Linked DNA regions of Homo sapiens: all the other regions are linked to region 2. The links come from fine-mapping of genetic effects on gene expression. A gene starts in region 2. Each other region holds a variant in brackets. All regions are shown on one strand. Distances are from middle to middle.

What was found. PIP is the estimated chance that this variant, and not a neighbour inherited with it, causes the effect.
Region 1: its variant is fine-mapped to the expression of ITGB3BP in whole blood (INTERVAL, PIP above 0.99).
Region 3: its variant is fine-mapped to the expression of ITGB3BP in whole blood (INTERVAL, PIP above 0.99).

The regions. Positions count from the first base shown.
Region 1 is chr1:63,483,544-63,491,543 of GRCh38, forward strand. ITGB3BP (integrin subunit beta 3 binding protein) reads right to left here. Exons shown (of 9, transcript NM_014288.5): 3 at 6,540-6,675. It overlaps LOC102724319 (a long non-coding RNA gene), which reads left to right and starts at 4,410. Exons shown (of 3, transcript XR_426701.4): 1 at 4,410-4,734. The variant G/T (reference allele first, on the strand shown) is at 4,833.
Region 2 is chr1:63,520,072-63,528,071 of GRCh38, forward strand. It overlaps ITGB3BP (integrin subunit beta 3 binding protein), which reads right to left and starts at 3,154. Exons shown (of 9, transcript NM_014288.5): 1 at 3,058-3,154. The coding sequence starts at 3,062. EFCAB7 (EF-hand calcium binding domain 7) reads left to right here and starts at 3,454. Exons shown (of 14, transcript NM_032437.4): 1 at 3,454-3,563; 2 at 5,501-5,688. The coding sequence starts at 5,502. RefSeq lists enhancers at 2,553-3,176, 3,338-3,417.
Region 3 is chr1:63,582,269-63,590,572 of GRCh38, forward strand. It overlaps a transcript of EFCAB7 not described here. Among named protein-coding and RNA genes, the nearest start is that of PGM1, 7.0 kb to the right of the region's middle. The variant A/G (reference allele first, on the strand shown) is at 4,682.

The sequences.
Region 1 (8,000 bases), 37 kb before region 2:
CCCTGTTTTCAATTTGTAATTTATCTTCATATCATTATTTCCTTTCTACTTTGGGGGGTTCATTATGTTGTTCCTTTTCAGTCATTCTGAGTTGAATGCTTGACTCAATAGTTTTCAATCATTCTTCCTTTTTAAATACAGTCATGAGCAGTATAACAACATTTTGGTCAGTGACAAACCACATATATGACAGTGGTCTCATAAGATTATAAACACCATATTTCTACTGTACCTTTTCTACTCAGATATGTTTAAATACACCAATACCATTATGTTTTGATTGCCTATGGTATTCAGTAGTCCACTGTATAGGTTTGCAGCCTAGGAACAAAAGGCTATACCATATAGCATAAATGTGTAGTAGGCTATGACATCTAGGTTTGTGTAAGTACAATCTATGATGTTCATACAATGACAAAATCACCAAACAATGCTTTCCTCAGAAGGTATCCCCATTGTTAAGTGACACAGGACTGTATATGCATTTGTAAGTACAGTTGGCCCTCTGTATTAGTGGATTCCACATCTGTGGATTCAACCAACCATGGATCAAAAATACTTTGTTTAAAAAAAGGATGGTTGCATCTGTACTGAACATATACAGACTTTTCCTTGTCATAATTCCCTAAACAATACAGTATAACAACTATTTCCATAGCACTTACATTGTATTAGGTATATAAGTAATCCTGAGATAATTTAAAGTATATAGGAGGGTGTATTGGTTATATGCAAATACTATACTATTTTCTACAAGGGACTTGAGAGTCTGTGGATCTTGGAAACTGAGTGGGATCCAGTAACCAATCCCCCAGATAGGAAGGGACGACTGTATAAAGCTTCCACCAAGAACTGCTTTAGTATAATGTAGGTATAAATTTTTCCTCTAAGTGCTGACATGTTTTCATTATCATTCAATTTTAAATATTTTATACTTTCCATTATAATTTTTCTGATCAATGAATTATTTAGAAGTTTCTTGGTTTCCAAACATACAGGTTAAAATTTTTGGAGGGCTGCCTTTTCATTATTGATTCCTAATTGTATGAAATTTTAGAGTGTGAGCTGTATGACTGTAATTTTTAGTACAGTGAGACTTCCTCTGTAACTCCAAGCTGGTTACATTTTTGTGAACATTCTACATGTGCTTTATTATATGGGTATTATATCTTTTTGACCACAGCTCATTAGATAAACTTGCTAATTGTGTACAACTTGTCTATGTCCTTCCTTTTTAACCGCTTCATCAGTTTCTGAAAGAGGTAGTTTAAAATCTCCTACAATGATTGTGGATTTATCAGTTTCTCCCTTGTTATCCTGTCATATTTCATTATGTTTTGAGTTTTTTAGATGCACATATGGCTCAGGATCCTTTTATTTTTGTAGTGGTGAATCTTTCTCTATCTCTTATGTAAAGAGCCTCATTATTTTCAATAAATCCTTTTAGGCATAAAGTCTATTTCAGCCTTTCTATTTTTGTATCAACTACTAGCTTTTTTTAAAAAGCTAGTATTTGCTTTGTTTTCTTTTTCTATTCCTTCAGATTTAATTGTCTTATGTCTTTTCTTAAAGTCTAATTAATAATGCTATTAATGAAAATGGCTAGAACATGTATGGAACATATACTATTAATATACGTCAAGTACCATTCTAAGTGCTTTCTGTGTATTAATTCATTTAATCCTCACAATTCTGAGGTAGGAATTACTATCTTCCCCATTTTACAGGCAAGAAAACAAAAAATACAATGAAGAAGTCAACTGATAGATATCTTGTCTGCCTGAAAATACGAGGACCTTAAAATATTGTCTAAAACATCGTAACTCTTATCTGTTGCCTCCTCACCTTCCATGATAGTTTTTCACCCGCCCTCCAATTGTTTGACTTTTTTTTTTCACCCGCCCTCCAATTGTTTGTTTTTAACCTGCCCTCCAATTTTTTTTTCACCCGCCCTCCAATTGTTTGACTTTTGCTTTATAGTCAGCAAAACTTGTAATTAGATTAACATGTTTGCTAATTCACTTTTTCATCATTGCTTTTTGCAATTCCACTCCTTTATCTGAGGTTCACTTTACCTCTTAGAGAAGTAACTTATTTTGTAGTTATTTTAAGAGAATCTGTGAGTGGCAAACTCTCTGAGACTTTGTCTGAAAAATTGTATTTCATCCTCACTTCCTGGATAAAAACTCAACTGTGATTCTTAATTGATACTATTATTGCATTTTCTGCTGGAGTCTACTGATATAGATAAGTTTATCAGTCTGTTACTCTCTTGTAGGTACTATCTTTTCTCTGGTTGCCCTTAAAATTTTGTCTTTGATGTTCTACATACAGTTTTATCATGATATAACTAGATGTGGATCTGTTTTACTTTACCCTGCCCAGACTTAGCATGCTACTCTAATTTGCAAATTCTTATCTTTCCTTAATTATGAAAAACTGATAGTCCTTATATCTTAGAATACTGCCTATGGACCATTCTCTGTATTTCCTCCTTGTAGAACTCCAATTTGGCAGATGTTGGAGAGTCTTATTCTGCCTATCATTTCACTTTATTGTTTTATCACATTCTCCTTTTATCTCTCTGTACTATTATATTGTTATAGTCTGAGTGATTTTTACAGATCTATTGTCCAGTTAACAAGTACTCTCTTCGACTATGCAAATTTGTTGTTTATTCTTCTACTTTCATTATTAAATAACAAGTCCGAAGTGTTCATGGGAGGAAAGGGGAAAAATTTTCTCTTTCTTCTTTTCTAAAATGCATACAACTGACCCTTGAGGAACTCGAGGGTTAGGAGTGCCAAATCCCCCATGTAGTCAAAAATCCAAGTATAACTCTTGACTCCCCAAAAACTTAACTACCAATAGCCTACTGTTGACCAGATGCCACAAAGTCAATTAATACATATTTCGTGTGTTATATGTATTATATTGTGTATTCTTACAATAAAGCTAGAGAAAAAAGTTATTAAGAAAATCATAAGGAAGATAAAATATTTACAGTATTGTAAAGTATTAATACCATAAGCTTGTCATCTGTTTACAAGATGAACTGTCAGAAATGGTGAGGAACTACAGCTGCAGACCTTAATCTACAGTACATATCAAGTAATTCATCTTTTTCTTGTAATGTCATGATTTTTCTCTGCTCATTGGGAGCACTTCCAGCATCACTAGTGGCACTTTATGTGGGTTTCATGGTGTTAGTCAAGGTTTCCAGCATAGCCCTAAACATGATGAAAAACATACGAGAACCATGAGATCATTTTTTACTGCAATACACAATTTACTTGAGAGACACATTACTTGTGCAGAGATTATCAGCATCACATGGTCAAGCAGATACTTGCAACACTTGAGCTCACTACAATAGCAACAGGAGGTAGCTATGAAATTATTACAGTAGCACAGTATGTACTAGAGTTAATTTTATGCAGTTATGATTTAGTACTGCATCTTTATATTCATTTACATTTCTCTCAGCTGCAAATGGGACTGTGTAGGGTCTAAGTGTTTGTATGCATTAGTTTTGATAAATTTTATTTTTTATAATAAATTTGTGTATGTTTTATGGTAAATGATAGACTAGTAGCTACATATATTTTATGCATCCATGGCATAGCCAACTTTTTTTTTTATATTTACAGTCTATAAAGTTTGTCTGCAGGGTTTTACAAATTGTCACAAAACTCCAAAAAATTTTCCAGTATGTTTATTTGAAAATAATCTTCATGTAAGTGGACCTGTGCAGTTCAAACCCATGTTGTTCAAGGGTCAACTGTAATAGTCTGGAGAAACTTGCTATGGGTTGGAGGAGGGCAGCAAAATAATGTACATACAAATTAAAAAATACATAAATGATACATAACATACACACATACATATAGAGTTATGTGTCACTTAACTATGGACATACATTCTGAGAAATGCATCATGAGGTGATCTCATTGTTGTGCAAACATCGTAGGTGTGCTTATACAAACCTCCATTGTATAACCTACCACACACCTAGTGTATAGCCTATTGCTCCTAGTCTACAAACCTGTACAGCATATTACTGTACTGAACACTGTAGGCAATTGTAACATATTGTAAGTATTTGTTTATCTAAACATATCTAAACATAAAAAAGCACAGTAAAATACGGTATTATAATCTTACAGGACCATCATTGTATGTGGTCATTTGTTGAACAAAACATCATTATGTAGTACACGACTATATCATGTACTACATATAATTGTACATGCTACACTTTTATATGACTAGCAGCGAGCTAGGTTTGTTTACACTGGCATCACCACAAAAATGTGAGTAACGTGTTGTGCTACAATGTTATGACGGCTACCGGGCAACTAAGCAATAGGAATTTTTCAGCTCCATTATAATCTTGGGGGACCCCTGATGTGTATACAGTCTGTCACTGACTGAAATGTTATTATGTGCTGCATGAACGCATCTGTTAAATGTATAAACTAAAGAGTTGAAACAAATCCCATGTTTGGCCAATGTAGAATCTAAGTAGAAGGAAGACATAGAACTAAATTTTTCATCCTTTTATAACTACAAATGGATTTAAATATAATATTAAGTCTTCTGTTCACATAGTACATGGTTCAAATGTACATAGAAAGTACATATAAATATCTGGAGGAAGATTATTCCAGGTGGAGAGAACTGCAAGACCTTGTGGCAAGAAGGGGCTCAGCATGACTGACAAATAGCAAGAAGGTAAGAGTGGCTAAAGTAGTGTAAAAAAGGGGTAGAAAATGAGGCAGATGAGGTGTTTGGGTGTTAGATGGATATATGGCCTTCCATGTCATGATAAG[G/T]GTTTTGGATCTTATCATAAGTGTGATGGGAAGTGAGTAACACCAAAAATGTCCTTGAAAATGTAATTTAAATTTTATATTATGTTTTGTATAATATTTTAAAAGTGGGAGTTGTTAAGAGATTATGACCTCATTTAGAATTTAAATGACTTCATACGTCATATTTTCTCATTTATTTTGAACTTAAGTTACTTCCTAAAAATCAAGCTTTTTTATTTTTAAAACATGTACAAGATGACATATTAGGATAAGCAATGTAATGATTACAAATGACATAATCTCATACAGAATTCTGGACAAAATTCTGTTTCGAGACTTCTATATGTGAGATATATATATTACAGCACATATGAAACATGTATGTGCAGTCTGATGAATAACTAGAGTGAATCAGTGTAACCACTATGTAGGTCAAAAAACAGAACATTGCCAGCACCTCTGAAACCCTTGCTATCTGACTTTTTAAAAAAGAGCTTACTTAGGACTATAATCTGTGATAATTATCTACTTAAATGCCAACTGAAATCATGTGACCAATCTTTTTATGGGCAAAAGGAATGTCCCCTTAAGTCCATACTTAATTTCAATATGGAAATTGAGTACATATCAACTTAAAATCTATTCACATTTCAGTATAGGGATGTACAATCTCTAAGGCATTTATTTTTAATTAAAAAGATATATCATGCATATAAAAATAGAACTATGAAACTTAAAGTGTATACATTTTCATACATTTTAGGGAAAGAGAACCTAATAGTAACAGCTTTAGGATAAAAAGCATTTGATTAAAGTAAAATTAAAGACATTCAAAACTTTAAGATCTCATTATGTGTTACATTATAACAAATCAGGTAAAATGAGACTTCTTTTTTCTGGGTAGCTTCTAGTATATGCTTAGCACTCATTAAATGTTAAACAATAAAATGTGAATTAGGCTAATCACAGTATATCTAAAGGATACACTATTAAATTTGAGCCTATTTAAAATTTTAATTATAAAACTACATGTCACTGATTCATAACCTTTCTCAAAAAAAAAAAACCCCACGGAATCGAGATTTGTGTTTTTAAATCAATATTTTAGCAATGAACTACCAGAGGACAACAAATATGTATGGTCAAAATTAAAATTAAACTAATAATATTTTAAAATAAAGAATTTCATATTAAAATTAGATTTTTCTCTATGGAAAAATTCTACAAACCTTTTGTAAATACATTTGAAATAGTCAAGAAAAAGAAGGGAATGAAATATAATAAATAAAGATAAGCTATATAAAGATATACTAAATGTGGGTAAAACTCAATGGAAACCATGGATAAAAATAACATTTAGAAGTATCACTCTTAAGTTGTAGTGCAGCAGCACCTGAATTATGCTCCCTTTAATTTATGCACATGATGGATAGCTTGTTAAGGGGCATATCTGTAACCATTATAATTGATAGTAGCTGAAGGCAAGTCAGGCCATAATTTCTATTTAATGGATGGGATAGTAAGGGAACAAAGCCTGCAGTTGCATTTTAAAATAAGTGCCAAAAGTTTACATTTATGTCCAAAGTAATACCTATATTAAGGTATTAAATTATTTGAGAGAAGAGAAAAATCAGCTGTAGCAAGATCCATACATAATTAAATCACAATTTTGATTTGGCCAATAACTAGAAAAACCTTACAATAAGTAGAAAAGAATGTTCAACTAACCATTTGATAGTCCATTTCTGTGCTTTTGCTCTTCAGAACTTGTGGGAGAAGCAAATAGACTCATTTGACAAGTTCCAGTTGTTGGAGAATAAGTTATAACACTTTTCTTCCTTGTGATTTTTGAAGGATCAAATGACTGGAAATAAATAATAATTAAGGACAGAAATAGCTATGTTTAGTTATAGATCTTTGAAATTATATACCATTAAAAAATCAGCAAAATTCAAACTTGTTTCCTTGCTCTTGCTTTTCAGATTACAAATATACTCAACTATCACTCTCAAAGTAAACACTATTCTTTCAAGGTAGATATTTCAGGTCTCTATAATAACTAGAACATCTCAATTTGATATTTACTAAATTTTAGCATTAAAGGGTTACTACCTTCTGAGATGGTATTTCCAAACAGGTTAGAGATGGCCAACTCTCCCAACCATACCCTGACTTTTGCTTTCAGCTGAACTTGAAGTATAATTATGGGGCCAGGGCAGGAAAACTCTCAGAGGTGCCTATTACTAAGCCTCACACAGAAACCTTAGGAAGGATCACTGCTGTCCTACAGCTTCACAAAGTGGTCTGATGTAGCATCTTGCTTCAATAATCACCAAAATAATGTCCAAACAGTTGAGTCAGGCATTTAAGGCCTTTGAGGATTTGGCCTGTCTTACAAATTTCCTCTTAGCAGCTTCCTCCTTTGTGTTTCCATAGGTGTTGGGCATACCTCTTATTTCAGGTAACATATTTTAATAAGTTCTGTCTGTTCCATTAGAATTTGCTCCTGAAAATAAATATTATCTTTTCATCTTTATATCCTAGAGAACTAAAAAATGTGTGAGGAACGAATGACTTACAAGGAACAGTCCAGTAAATTTGGCCATCTTGCTCTACTCAGAATATACTAATTTGTTCACTGGTTCATACATCCAATTATTATTCACTGTTACCTACAGCTTCAGTCACTAGGCTATGTGCATTTGGGCCTCAGATCATTTTGTGATCTCAGCTTGGAACATCCTCTTTTTTATCTTCCCCAAGACCTAGACTTTCCTTAGTTTAGGTCCTCATTCATGATCCCCTTCCTTCAAACATCCATTATCATACTATTAATTGTTCCCTTTCCTGAATTCCCTTAAAACTTGCTTTCCATAAGCTTACTGATCACCCACCAGCACTGCTAAATGTGTACTAATGTGTACAAAGAAATATAACAAATTGCTCTGGCCTTAAGGAGTATCTACCAAAAGTTAGAAGAACAACAAAGAGGTTTTAAATTAGTATGCATGCTACGAAATTCAGAGAAGAGGAAAAATTCAAAGTTGGCTGCAGTAGTCTGTCACAGAAAAAGGCATGAGAAATCTGAAATAAGAGGTGGAACAGACAGCATAGGATGGATCTGGGGGATATAGGAAAGGTCTGATGGCTCATACATTGCCAACATACTGGATATAGCTTGGTAGAGGA
Region 2 (8,000 bases):
TACTTTTTAAAGGAAGCTTTATAAAGAAAAGGTAGAAGAAGAAAAAAGGTCTAGAATGGGATTTGATTACTTACAGCAAGAGCTACTAAAAAGACATGTATCTGTCTACATAGAATGAAATCTTTCCAAAGTAGCAACTTTATCATTCAATTAATAAATACTTATTGAGCAACTATTTTATCAATGAGGACACTGAGTAACAATCTAAGGAGCACACAGCTGGTTAACAGACTCAAGATTCAAATCCTGGTTTGTCTTACTCCAAAGTCCATGATTTTTCCACTTCAAATCTTTAAAAAGTGAAGGTTTCAACCTAGATAGAGAAATGACTGTGCCACTAATTTCAGAATGTACACAGAAAGAGGAGCAAGATTGGAAGGGAAGATGATTAGCCTAATGAAACCAACAGCAGCATTTATCTAATTCATCTGTTTCCTCCAAAGGATCAAAGAGAAGGCAGAGAAAGCTACACTTAGGGAGGACTTAAGATAGGTAATCTCTAAATCCTTTTAAAAAACATTTTAAGTAGTACATACTAAATGAATAAATGTAATACTAATGAATAATGGATACTAATGAAAAAATGTAAGCTGTGCAAGTTATAAAACATTAGAAAATAAGCACGCATAAACTCACCACATAATTTAAGAACTAGATCATTACCAATATGACTGGGTATACATGCATCTATTTGCTTCCCCCAAAAGGCATCTATTAAACTGTATTTATCATTTCTCTGTATTTATCATTTCTCTGCCTTTTAACAATAATCTTATCATATACATATATAACCATAAGTAGCTTATTTTTGCGTGTTCTTAAGTTTTATAAGGATAACAAATGTAGTCTCATACAAATTGGTTATTTCACTCATTATGTTAAGATTCATCCATCCGCTCTATTGTCACTGAACATTTGCTGTTTCTTATTTATTTTAGATTCATTTGGACCATATATATTTTCACAACTACTCATTGTTGTATTGAAGTTTTTTCTGCTCAAGGTTCTAAGAAATTAGAAAAAAGATAGATCACACCCTCCCGTAAGTTATATTACACATTTAGTCTTCCAAATACATACCAAATAGTCACCATTTCAACATCACTTAAAAATGAATCCACCTGCATATGTAACTTGCCAAGATAACTATTTGCACCACTCATTTATGACCTCACCAGTAACCACATTAAAAAAAAAAAAAACACTTAATTTACTAACAATGATGGAGATTCTCTACTAACATGCCATTACGTTTTATGCATTACTTAACTGTTGATTTAGTCTTAAATCACTTTGCTAAAACTTAGAAAATTAGCAAAGTAATTGCTAGTTTCACATATATATTAGCTATATATGTGAGATGTTAACCTCAACTTTAAGGTTGTGTATTTATTACCAGAATATACTTATCTAAAAGCCTAATATAACATCTTGTGTGCATATGTTAGGAAGACAGTTGTCAAAAAGGTCCACTTTTAGGCCTGACACAGTGGCTAACTCCTATAGTCCCAGCACATTGGGAGGCTGAGGTGGAAGGATCACTTAAGCCCAGGACTTCAAGACCAGGCTGGGCAACACAGGGAGACACTGTCTTTACAAAATAAAAAAATTAGGCATGGTGGCATGTGGGAGCCCAGGAGGTAGAGGCTGCAGTGAGCTGTGATCACAGCACTGCACTCCAGCCTGGGCAACAGAGCCAGACTCTGCCTCAAAAAAAGAAAAAAAAAGTTCCACTTTTCATAGTTTTTTGGTTCCCCACTCCTATACACAGATACACACAGTTCAGGAGGTATTACCACTTGTTTGGCAAATACACCTCTGTTTTCACTGTATTCTTAGGGATTTTGTGTGTGTGATTGTGTGACATTATCTTTGCAGCTTTGTTTATTTGAGAACTGGATGATTTTTCTAATGCAAGAGTAGGGAAACAAGTCTCTTTGCTTAATTCTGGGGAAAGGAAAACCTCCTCAATAATCCATAACTTTTAAGGGCATCAGTAAAACATGCATTTATTGGCAGCTGTGTTGAACACCCTATTAGGTGATGGGTTTCTTTATCTGTAAAGATAATAGCAGCCCCCATCCCCTAAAGTATTTTAGGATTCAATGAAAAAACGTAGATAAATTGATTAATACAGCACCCACATTGTAATTCAAGATTCAATAAATATAGGTTATCATTTCTGTACAGCTTTCCCCTTTCATGTCAATTCCTATTTGATACAAAAATTTCCCCAGCTGTGTTACTTTGCATTTTACTTAATCCTGAAATAAACTAAGGAACAGGTTACACTAGAGGGGGTACCTAAATCAACCTGAGGACAAGGACGGCCAAGGAGAAATTACAGGTGTTTGATATCCACCCCACTCCCCCAACCTTTAATGGCTTTTTTAAGTTTCTATAGGGTAGCAACTATTTTATGCATCTCAATATAGGATGGATGAAGGATATGAAAAACAGATGAATCTTATCTAGCACAATGCCTATTCCCACTATGGTCATTCTCAATAATCAGATTATTGGTCATAGATGGGAATTTAGAGATCATGCAGTACAAACTTATTTGTGTAAGTAAAAAAAAACGAAGCTCAGGGTCGATAAGTGACTTGCCCAACAGTGAAAGAGTCTTATCTGGAATCCAGGTATCTAGACCCACTCAGTCCATGAGTTCTCCCACGGGTTTACACGAACGCGCCACATTAATGAAGGCAAGGGACTGACAAACTACGAAGGCGTGTTTTCATCTACTCTGTCCCATCCTGTGTGTCAACCTTATTTATGTTATTTCAAGTTAGACATCACCTAAATACAGCCCACAGTTTACGAAATCTGTCAAAAGCATCGTAGAAACAGAAAGCGAAGGAGGACTATCGTATGAGTACCGCTGGAGGAGACGTAGAGTTGAGGGTACCAAGCGAAGGGAATTGCCTGTGGACAGAGGAGACAAGTTCATACTCCGAAAAAATAGGAAAACGAGAAAGGCTACTGGGCCACATAATATCTTCTCTTCTTGCAGAGGGCCCCCAAAACAGCAATACCTGGGGAGGAGATACCTACGGCATTCTGAGATTCGGGAAAGCACCACTGCCGCTGAATAAAACGAACCCAGCAACTTCCGAAAACAGAAAATCCGCCAAAGGAAACGCCAAGGCATGAAAAGCGCGCGCTGGACGTTGCGTCAAGCCCACCGCGGCCGGGCGGAAACATCCTCCCCGCGACGAAGGATCCGGGTGTGCGCGAGCAAAGGAGCGAGCGGGGAGTTCTAGGCCCAGGACAGCACCTATTTCCTGCTGGTGTAACAGAGCACCTTCTCTCACTACTCTGGCCATACCACCCCCGCGATAGAGGAGCAACACAGCTGTCTCTGTGCGCTCCGGATCAGCGCTTCCTAGATTTCTAGCCGGATCGTTTGGAGAAGGGCTCTGCATCTTATTTCCGGTGGCGGTGAGGTGCAGTTGCCATGGTGATTAGAGAAAGGCCGAGATCTGTCCAGCTGCGGTGAGAGGAACGCTGAATCGCCGAAGAGAATTGGCTGCGCTTCCTTGTTTGTGAGCTAGAATTAGGTAGCAAACAGCTCGCTGTCTCTGTCTCTTCGCTCCCTCTGTCCCTCTCTGTGCAGCTGCTTCTCCTTCCTCTGCTTTGTCTACTTCTCTGTCATAAACATTTGGTCCATGTATGTACCTAAAATGTACATGTAAATGCGGTTTTATTTCCAGAGGAATACAAAAATAGAGAGATGGTGCCCGAGATTACCTGTGACGGTATTTCACTGTGTAGGGACGGTGACTGGACGGCTTTCTGTTTTCACTTGGCCCTGTAGAAGCCTTAGGCGCTTGTTAACAGTTTATTTTTCTTGCTATTGTGTGGCTGGTTATTTATGGAGCCGTTTGCTGCAATGTACTCTCTAGGCCCCTGTCTCAGTCTCGGGCCGGAGTTTTAAGTAAGGGAGGTTTCCAAGCCTGCGGGGGGTGCAATTATATGTTTATTTAAGCTTTAGTTTGGTTTCTCGTCACAGAAAGGAAAAGAATAAAATTCTGGCACATTTCTGCCTTGGGATTTCCATGTGAGGGAGTTGCCTTGTTTGGAAAGAATATTTGAGGACGATCCTAAAATATACTTATATTTTAAAATTGCTTATTGCAAAGTGAAATTCATTCTCCCTTACTTCTTGAAACAGTTTTCTTTCACATTTGTGAGGAGATGCATGCACACATATGTGTTTAGAACTCTGATGCTTAATTATAGTATTACCAATTTGCAGTAACCAGACTGTGACACCACATCCCTGTGGGGTCCTTCTAAATCTGGTGTAATATGAAAGTGTCAGGCAGGCGGCCTGCGTATTATAAATAGGGTACTTCATCCATGATAAGCAATTATTATCTTTCTTTCCCAAGTGTAAATGATCTATATAATTCGAAAAGGTGCAAGTGATTTAGGCCTCCTGAGTAGGAATGCAATGAGTCCTGAAGGGGACCCTACCTGTGTTATCTTATTATTGAACTTGAAATATTCAATTTATTAGGTTGGAGATCTATTTTTAGAAGTCAAAGCTGGGTAGAGTAATATTGGAAGCTGTTAGACCACCAGTAGAATCTAATACCCCATAGTAACCATTGTTCAGTACTATATCCACATTAACAAAGAAGAAACTGTTCGTGAAATTTACGGCTTTTTGCCACTTACTGCTAGCTGGGTGACATTGCTACCCCTCAATTTCCTCATCTGTAAAACGGACAAAAAAATACCTGACCGCTGTAATAGGGATAAGACAAGATGTATGACAGTTCTTTAAGCTCTTATGTACAGAGGTGCTATACAAACCCCAAATATTGTTATTAATAAAGGAACACAGTAAAACTATGATAATGCTATAAATAAGACTTTTAAAATATAGCTATTTGAAATGTGGGGCTGCATTATTGAGATGTTAATGAAATGATCTTGTTGATCCTGCTGTGGAAGATGGGTGTCAACTACCACTCATATCCCGATTCTCATTATTCTGGAGTTTCTCATTATCTGCAGTTTATTTAGCACTTACTACGTGTCAAGCAATATTGTATATGCTTCACATGTATTAACTGATTTGCTCCTCTTAAAAACCTGATGAAGACTGTCATCTGACTTTCGTATTTTGAGAGAATAGATGTGTGCTCTTCCTTTGTTCAGTGATTCTTCTCTTGTGTATATCTTTGTTCTTTTGGCTATTATCACATATTTGAACAATTATATATATACATATGTATATATCTAAAATTAGAAATTAACTGCCAAAGGCTTATTCTTGTTTAATATATAATACGTCCATATACAACTATAGTATTCGTCTTTTACTTCCACATATAAAACTTTTAATATCTTGATCTTTTCATATATGTTATAAATTTTCTTCTATGTATAAAATCTTGATTCTCCTCCCTGTATTTGAAAGACATGGTGACATTTGTGTTTTAGTGACTCACATTGACAAACACATTTTTAAATTATTTTCCAATAGAATGGCGATCAGTCCACGAAGCGATGCAACTTTCTCCAGTCAGAAATCAACACCTTCAGAGAGTCCTCGAACAAAGAAATTTCCACTAACTGAAGAGGAAATATTTTATATGAATTGTAGAGCTGCCTACTTAACTGTCTTCAAAAGCAGCTTGGAAAACATTATTTCTAAAGATCAACTTTACTTAGGTAAATTTTTAAAATTTTTAAATCTTTCACCTTTTTGTTGAAAGTTAATAAATAGGTCCGAAAGACTGAAATTAGAATTACCTTGTTGAATCATCCCAGTTTCTTAGTGAAGCTTGAGCAATGGAACTACAGTAAGCTATTATGTCATATCATATAGTTACATATTCTAGGAACTACAAAATAAAACTTTCAATGTTTATACAAACTAGATGGGTAATTGAAAGCTTCTATCAATTACTACTTGCTTAAGATACTTTTAATTCTCATTTTGGTGCTTTAAGATTTATCATAATAAAATTAAAACGCTTTTGGCCTCTTAAGTCACTAGCCTGAATTTGACCCATACTGAGGAAAGTGTAAAGGATGTGTAAAAATGGGTGGAATGTCTGAAAAAGTGAAGTACTGAGAGATAAGTGAACTTTTAAAAGAGAATTGAGTTGGGGTTTTTTTATTTCTTATTTTTATTTTTTGTTTTGTCTTTTATTGCTTCTGTCCTTTATCACATTTAAAAATTCCTCTCATTACAAAGGTCCCCAAAACCACCAAATTTGGTTCTTTCCAGGAGTATCAAATGATTTGGACATCTTTAGTCATGAGAGAGTAGTAAACAACAGTACTAGATAACACTGACTACTCATGTCAGTTTCATCAAGGCTAATAACTTTATGGGTAGAGAAACTGAGTTATTTTGCCAATTTTATAATGAATTTTCTTAAACCAAAACCCTGACATATTTGTGCAGCAGTGTCTTGAGTTTGTATCCAATAAGATCTATTTGAGGAAATGTATTTTGAGGAATACAAGAATTGACAAGATTAAAATTTATTTGATGTCTAAATAAAATACATTATTTGTAAAGTAGTTTAAATGCAAATGCACATGACTGACTTTTAAAGTCATGTTTAATTTTGATTTACATAATTTTAAAATTACTAAAATGCTCTATTTTGAATTTTAAGTATTTGTGTTTAATTCATATACATTAAATGTTTAGGCAGACATCCAATAAATTTTTTTTTTTTTGAGACGGAGTCTTGCTCTGTCTTCCAGGCTGGAGTGCAGTGGCGCGATCTTGATTCACTGCAGCCTCTGCCTCCTGGGTTCCAGCGATTCTCCTGCCTCAGCCTCCTGGGTAGCTGAGATTACAGTTGCACGCCACCATGCCTGGCTAATTTTTGTATTTTTAGTAGAGACGGGGTTTTGCCATGTTGGCCAGGCTGGTCTCGAGCTCCTGACCTCAGGTGATCTGCCTGCCTCGGCCTCCCAAAGTGCTGGCATTATAGGCGTGAGCCACCACGCCTGGCCAATAAATTAAAATTACTTCTAATTTGCCATTATTTCTAAAATAATCCGAGTTTTTTTTTGTTACTGTTTTGAAAATATACTAAGAGAAGGAATCTGCTAAGTTTAAAAGTTTAACATGCCTTCCACTACTATGGCATTTAGTTTGTGAATCAATGTGTATGTATTACTAAGGTGCTATCAATCTTATGAAATTATCTGGGAGGATAACTATACAGTGTTTGTCTCTTCAGTGTTATATACACTTTTGGTTTTAGGGTGGAATACTCTCTTAACGTTGTAATAATTGATTTTAGATAAACTATTTTTTAAAAAGGAGTAACATGAACTAGAGCTGCTGCTTCTTGCTACACCTTTCATCTATATCCTTCTGCCACTTATGTGCATTTCCATTTTAAGGTCAGAGACAGCGGTAGCATTACTATAGCTTTAAGTTCCTTTTTTGTCAATTTATAAATAATACAGGATTATAGATGCATGTCAGAACTTTAAAGTAAACCCTGGCAAAAGATCCATATCATGGTGTCAAAATTTAAATATCTACAGCTACGTGATATTTTTACTATCATCAAACTTAATCATTAGATCCAGCTAATTCTAAACCTAGAGATTAAAGTTAGTAGGAAATAGATTGTATCAATTTCTTAGCTATGGGGACATCTGCTTACTGAGTACATGTTTTGGCATAATTAATTTTATTCTGAGAAAGTTGTTCTTGTCTAATTACCAGTACATTTTTTAAAACAATATTTTCTTTGTTACTAAAGATAGCAGCAAGCATATGCTAAGCTACCACTTGTGAGAAAAAGTTACATACCTTTTTTCTCAAAACTGAACAGAAGATATAATTTTCTTTCATGTGGACTTCAAATGCTGGCAAGGATGTGGAGAAAAGGGAACCCTCTTACACTGTTGGTAGGAATGTATATTAGTACAACCACTGTGGAGAACAGTTTGGAGGCTTCTCAAAAAACTAAAAATACAGCTACCATAGGATCTAGCATCCTACT
Region 3 (8,304 bases), 62 kb after region 2:
GTGCTCCTAAGAAGCATAGCAAAGTCATGACATTACAAGAAAAAGTTGAATTGCTTGATATGCATTGTGGATTGAGGTTTGCAGATGTGGTTGCCTGCCATTTCAAGATAAATTAAGAAAACATAAGGACCATTGTAAAAACAGAAAAGGAAATTCATAACACCGTTGCTGCAGCTATGCCAGCAGGCATGAGAACCTTGCCCTTTTTGCAAAATACCTTTTCATCTCATATTGGAAATGCAGCTTTTATGTGGGTACAGGATTGCTATAAGGAAGTCATACCTGTAAATTAACAGGATTTTTAAAAAAGTGAAGTCATTATATGACAAAGCAAAAGGAAGTTTTTTGGGTTTTTTTGAGATGCAGTCTCGCTCTGCCTCCCAGGCTGGAATGCAGTGGTGCCATCTCAGCTCACTGCAACCTCTGCCTTCTGGGTTTAAGCAATTCTGCCTCAGCCTCTCGAGTAGCTGGGACTACGGGTGTATGCCACCATGCCCAGCTAATTTTTGTATTCTTGGTAAAGATGGGGTTTCACCATGTTGGCCAGGCTGGTCTCGAACTTCTGACCTCAGGTAATCCACCCACCTCGGCCTCCCAAAGTGCTGGGATTACAGGCGTGAGCCACCGCACCCAGCCATGCAAAAGGAAGTTTAAGGATATTAAGCTCAAAAGTTTAGTGCCAGCAAAGGATGGTTTGATAATTTTTGAAAGAGGTTTGACTTAAAAAGTGTCAAGATAACAGGAGAAGCAGCTTCTGCCAGCAAAGAAGGATCAGATGAGTTCTCAGATACTATTAAGAAAATCATTGAGGAGGAATGATATCTGCCTGAACAGGTTTTTAATGCAGACTAATGTGCCCTATTCTGGAAAAACATGCCACAGAAGACATTTATTAGTAAGTAAGGGAAGCAAGCACCAGGATTTAAGGCAGGAAGGGATAACAAACTCTACCATTTTATGAATGCAGTCACATTTATGATCAAGATTGCCCTTATCTATAAAGGTGCTAAACTCTCCCCCTTCAATGCCCTACCCTCCGCAGCCTTGAAGGGAAAAGATAAACACCAGCTGCCAGTCTTTTGGTTGTACAACAAGAAGGTCTGGACAATGAGAACCCTTTTTCTAGATTGGTTCCATCAATGCTTTGTCGCTGAAGTCAGGAAGTACTTTGCCAGTAAGCGACCACCTTTTACAGTTTTTTTGATCTGGCACAATGTCCCTGGCCACACGGAACCCCATGATTCAACACTGAAGGTGTCAATGAGGTCTACTTGCTCCCCAAAACAAGGTTCCTAATTCAACCTATAGATTGGAGGTCATGAGGGCCTTTAAGTCTCATTTCACGTGGGAGGTACTCTGTGGAAAGGAATGTCAACGCTATGGATGAGAACCCCCAATAGAGAGAAACCATGATATGAAGCCGAGATGGCCTTTTAGAAAAGAAAACTATATAAAAATAAAAGACTGAAAGATTAAAACAACAATAACAAAAGGACATCATAAAAGTCTATAAAGATAATACCATTGATTATGCTACAGAAAAAGCCATGAAAGTCATCAAACCTGAAACAATAAATTCCTGATGGAGAAAACTGTGTCCAGATGTTGTGCATCATTTCACAGAATTTATGACAGACCTAATCAAAGAAATGAAAGACGTGGATATGGCCAAAAAAAAAAAAAAAAAAAAAGTGGGAGGTGAAAGGTTTTAAGATATGGATCTTGGAGAAATTCAAGACACCACACCAGAGGAGTTAAGACAACAGGAGAGAGTTGAGTGATTCTGAACCAGTGCCAAATGATGTGGAAGAAGACATAGAAGAAGCAGTGCCAGGAAACAAAATGACATGAGACAGTCTGGCATAAGGGTTCTGATTATTCAAGATCACTTTTGACTTCTTTTGCAACATGGAAACTAAAGCAAACAGTGGAAGATGGATTGTACTGTATAGAAACATTTTTAGAGAAATGAGAAAGCAAAAAAGTCAGACAAAAATTACAGTGTAGCCGGGTGTGGTGGCTCATGCCTATATCTCAGCACTTTGGGAGGCTGAGGTGGAAGGATTGCTTGAGGACAGGAGTTCAAGATCAGCCTGGGCAACATGGTAAGACATTGTCTCTACAAAAAATAAAATTAGCTGGGCATGGTGGCACACACCTGTAGTCCCGGCTACTCATGAGGCTGAGGCCAGAGGATCACTTGAGCCCAGGAGTTCGAGGCTGCAGTGAGCTATGATTGCACCACCACAATCCAGCCTGGGCAATGGAGCAAGATCTTGTCTTGAAAAAAGAAAAAAATTACAGTGTATTTCCAAGTTACACCAAGTGTGCCTGCCTCTTCTGCTTCTGCTACTCTTGAGACAGCAAGACCAACTTCTCTTCTTCCACCTTCTATTCAACATGGAGATAATGAGGATGAAGACTTATGATGATCCACTTTCACTTAATGAACAGTAAATATATGTTCTCTTATGGTAACAAATAACATTTTCCTTTCTCTAGCTAACTTTATTGTTTATGTTCCATAAGGCTTCTGGTCAACATAGGCTATTAGTAGTTAAGTTTGGGGGGAGTCAAAAGTTATGGATAGATTTTCCACTTGTGGGGGTGGTTGGCATTCATAACCCCCATATTATTTCAGGGTCAACTGTACATTGTTGAGCATTTTTGTGACTGCATAAAATGGATGTTGGTCTGTAGTTTTCTTAATTGGAAATGTCTTTGTCTTGTTTGGGTATCAGAGTAATTCTGGCCTCATAAGATGAGTTGGGAATGCTTTCTCGTTTTCTGGAAAAGACTGTAAAATTGGTGTTATTTCTTTAAATGTTCACTTGAATTTCTCATTAGAAACATCTAGGCATGAAGATTTATTTTGGAAGAGGTTTTTTTTTTTTTAATACAAATTCAATTTCTTTAACAGCTACAGGATATTCAGTTTACCTATTCTTGGTTGAGTTTTGGTAGTTTGTAGTTTTTGAGCATTTGGTCCATTTTATCTAAGTTGTCAAATTTATGTGCATAGAATTTTTTAAAATTGTCAATGCAGTCTGTAGTGATATCCCTTTTTCATTTCTGATATTAATAAAATGTGTCTTCTCTGTTGGTCTTGCTGGAGGTTTGTCATTTTTATTGATCTTTTCAAAGAAAAGTTTTATTGATTTTATTTAGTTTTATTGATTTTCTCTTTTTTTGTTTTTAATTTTGTTGATTTCTGCTCTTACCTTTATTCATTCCTTCTTTCTGCTTACCCTGGGATTACTTGTTCTTTTCCTAGTTTCTTAAGGTAGAAGCTTAGATTATTAAGATCTTGCTTTTTAATATTAGCTTTAAAAATCAGTACCTTTTTGTAGCTTATACTTCGTATATTTTATTAATTTGTGTACATGTCTAGATTTCCCTATTTTAATGTTCTGGAGTGCAGGGATCTTATTTTGGTTGGCTAATCTGGGACCTAACTGACTATCCTGTACTGTGTGCTTAGTAAAAATTTGATAGGTGGTTTGAAAAGGAACAGATGGGTGAAAGGGAGAGTAAGTGAAGGTATGAATAAAAGTATTTCAAAGAAGGTTTCAAAATTAAGAAAAATAACAGAACCTAAGAATCATATCCAGGGAAGTGATATCAAGGGAAAAAAGAAAAACAGTTCTGTCATGAGGAAAAATTGCTAATACCAGCCAATTCTAAACTAGTTCTGATAGACTGCGTTCAGAATCTCAAGGTGGCATACAGAACACTCCCAGTACACTGCAGCAATTCTACATAGTGAATAAACAAAGAACTATGTTTCCTAGACAATTCAAGGAAAAAAACATTTTTGACCTTAGTTTTTCAGATAATTTAAGCAAGATAATAATTTGGAGATATTTACCTCCGTGATTTTCTTGATTCCTTCCTTCACTCGTGCTACACTTGATATATATTTCTCTGGTGTTTATTGATTGTAGAGCCTTAGGATAGCCTTTTTTTTTTTTTTTCCTTATTCTGTCTCTTGCTGTCACCTGAAATCATGCTTTAGGCCTCCAGAGGATCAAGCCATAAGTTTTGTGGCTCATAGCCCTCCATAAAATTAAAGCATCTGTGTATTAGTCTGTTCTCATGCTGCTATGAAGAAATACCTGAAACTGGGTAAATCATAAAGAAAATAGGTTTAATTGACTCACAGTTCTGCATGGCTGGGGAGGCCTCAGGAAACTTAAAATCATGGCAGAAGGCACCTTTTCACAGGGCGGCAAGAGAGAGAATGAGTGCCCAGCAGAAGGGGGAAGCCCCTTATAAAACCATCAGGTCTTGTGAGAACTCACTCACTATCACAAGAACAGCAGCATGGGGTTAACTGCCCCTATGATTCAATTACCTCCCACCAGGTCCCTCCCATGACATGTGGGGATTATGGGAACTACAAGATGAGATTAGGGTGGGGACACAGCCAAACCATATCAATCTGTATTAGTTTTCTATAAGTGCTGTAACAAATTACCACAAACTTGGTAGCTTAAAACAACAGAAATTTATTTTCTCACAGTTCTGGAGGCCAGAATTTCAAAATCAGTATAACTGGGCCAAAATCAAGGTGACGACAGGGTGGTGCTTCCTTGGAAAGTTTTAAAGGAGACTGCATTTTTTGTCTCATCCAGCTTTTGGTGTCTGCCAGCATTCCTTGGCTCGTGACTACATCACTCCA[A/G]TCTGCCTCCTTGGCCTTCTCCTCTTTTGCAGTCAAATGTCCCCCTTTCTCTGTCTTCTAAGGACACTTGTAATTGCATTTAGAGCCCTCTTGGACAATCCAGGATAATCTTTCCATCTCAAGATTCTTAATTATATCTGCAAACTCATTTATGCCATATAAGGTAACACTCACAGATTCTGGGGATTAGGAAATGTATAACTTTTAGGAGCCATTATTTAACCTACCACAGCATCTAACAAGGAATCAAGAATACTGATGAAATGGAAAAATGAAGACATTCATTATCTCTTGAAAAATGTCCTTCACAATCTGTATTTTTAAAAATCTTATCTTTTGCCATTTGAAATATTAATATTTGCATATCAAATATTCATATAAATTAATTCAGACTGATATCCTTTATAGAAGATTCCAAAAATGAATTCTAAGGAAAAAGTCCAATTTATCACATATATCAATCCTTTTCACACATAGCCTCATGAATAACCACTTGACACTGAAACATGAATTCAGAAACTATTATTATTTTGGCACAGGAACAAACTTCAGAATCACAGCATGCAGATATCTATTAACTTTTATTCAAGTAAAAGTTTTAAACACCTGAATAACTTATGGATACAAACGGACATCGGTTTCATATTGCTTCCATATGTAGGAACTAGTCATTTCAGCAAATTACAAATAGATCAGGATTTAATAAACTGAATCTGCAGTCAAGAAGAACCTATGATTTAGACTGCATAAATGAACTAAAATGACATTTGCAATATTGTTCAGCATTAATTTGGGTTGATATGGAATTGTCAATTATTTTCCAGTTACAAATAACTGTACATTCTTATAGAAGATTATTTACAACTGACTTACTCTATTAGAGCTCTGTTAACTGAGAGACTAGTCTCTAGTTAGAGACTAGTTTAGGACATTCTAGTCCTAAACTGTAGACATCCTCAATATTCCTCAATATAGATTATTCCACCATTACTTGACACCACCAGACAGGAAGATGAGGATACATAGATATAGAGCTGTTTTGTTTTTAACAATAACATGATACATGCTTTTATTGTATGCCAAATAGGTGCCTGCTAAGGCTTTGTCTATATGTTGTTAATGAATTACTTTTCAATATTTCTCACTTTGATAATTGGTTTCTATATAAGCCATGTAACTAATAACTGTTAAATGTTAATGCCACTATATCACCCACTTCACCATCCAGTATTTTCATTATAAACTCCATACATCTTTTTTATTATAAATTTCACATACATACCATTGATTATTTGTTGCAGTCATCAAAGATTGCTATCCTATAGTAAATACATTTCTTTAAATCATTGCAATTGGAATGCAAATGAAGGATAAATATGATTGTACTTGAGAATAGTAAAATTCATAGAGACAGAATAGTGGTTTTCAGGGGTAGGAGGGAGGAGGGAATGGGGAGTTACTGTTTCATGGGTACAGAGTTTCAGTTTGCGAAGATGAAAATGTTCTGGAGATGGATGGTACAATGGTTGCACAACAATGTGAATGTACTTAGTGCCACTGAATGTACACTTAAAAATCATTAAAATGGTAAATTTCATTACGTATGTCTTGCCACAATGAAAACAAAATGCTTTTGTTTGTTCACTGCTGTTATGATAAAGATCTCAACACCTGACATCCCCTACAAGGCCCAATATGATCAGACCTACCATTCCACCCCGAGGTTTTTATACTCCAGTTACACTAACTGTCTTTTTTCAAGTTATTGATGACACTAGATTCCTTCTTACTTTAAACTTCCCTTAACGTTCTTTCTGGAATGAAATGCTCCTCCTCTCTTTTCACCTGGCCAGGTACTATTACTCATTGTTTTATCCCTCAGCTTACATAGCACTTTCTCCAGGATATTGTCCATGACTCTCTCCAATGATAGATCCTTCTATTTACAATCTAACAGCACCTATACTTCTTTGTTGCACTTATCACAATTATGATTTATTATTCAGTATCTGTCTCCTGCAACATATTGCAAGATCTGTGAGACCAGAGACTATTTTGCTTTTTTTTTTTTTTTGAGACGGAGTCTCGCTCTGTTGCCCAGGCTGGAGTGCAGTGGTGCGATCCTGGCTCACTGCAAGATCCGCCTCCCGGGTTCACGCCATCCTCCTGCCTCAGCCTCCTGAGTAGCTGGGACTACAGGCACCTGCCACGACACCTGGCTAATTTTTTGTATTTTTAGTAGAGATGGGTTTTTACCCTGTTAGCCAGGATGATCTCGATCTCCTGACCTCATGATCCGCCCACCTTGGCCTCCCAAAGTGCTAGGATTATAGGCGTGAGCCACCGCGCCCGGCCGAGACTATTTTGTCTTATTCATCAAACACCTTTCAAAGAGCTGTCATTTAGTACAAGTTCAAAACATATTTATAGAGTTAATGAATCAATACACGAACGAATACATCTAAATGGTAAAGAATAATTCATTAATGAAATAATGAGGGCCGGGTGTGGCGGCTCATGTCTGTAATTGCAGCACTTTGGGAGGCCGAGGAAGGCAGATCACTTGAGGTCAGGAGTTCCAGACCAGCATGGCCAACATGGCGAAACGCCATCTCTACTAAAAATACAAAAATTAGCTGGGCATAGTGGCATGTGCCTGTAATTCCAACTACTTGGGAGGCTGAGACACGAGCATTGCTTGAACCCCAGAGGTGGAGGTGGAAGTGAGCCAAGATCGTGCCACTGCACTCCAGCCTGGGTGATGGAGTGAGACTGTCTCCAAAAAAAAAAAAAAAAAAAAAAAAGTAAGGATTACCACTTAAAAGGTATTTCAAAGAAAAGGAAAATACATAATATGTACTTATCATTTTAAAAATAATACAAATTCCCTATAGAAAACCTGGAAAATCCAGATAAAATATAAAGAAAATAAACATTGCCCTATCTTGCAACTCAGTGGTAATCATTGTTGCATATCTTGGTATATTTCCAATGGCTTCTTTCCCGATTTCAGTGCTACCCACAGGGGAATAAGACTCCTTCTCTTGCTTTTCATAAATACTACAACTTGGAAATCTCTGCAAGTCAATTTTTGAACGTGGGTAGAACCTGTGAATACGATGATACATTACTCCTATGAACACGTTACAAAGGGAGATTATCCAGGTAGGTCTAATCTAAGAAATGGGGACCTCAATCCTACAACTGCAAGGAAATAGATCCTGCCAGCAATCTGAATGCGCTGTGTTAAAATCAGATCAAACTTTAAAAATTTTTAAAAGTTTAGCATGCATACAAAGAACAGTTTACAAACTGGAAGACATCTAACCAAAAGTGGCAAGAAGCCCAGCTCACAGCAGTTACAGTACAGCTTATAAACATTGAGGAAGAAGTATTTTGACCTTCGTTACATTCTTTTTAAGGCGAGTAGAGCTGTTAAGCTGATTTGTCTATAGCTGATTGGTTTAATTTCATTGACTCACACTGTCAAGGACATTTTGTGTTTTGTTTATGTCTAGAGCAAGTGTTTCAGGGAAATAAGGATGACTTAAGTTTTGGCTACCTGGCTATGGGTGGTTGGACTTAAAATATCTAAACTGGAGCCTCTATTTTTATTTATCTTT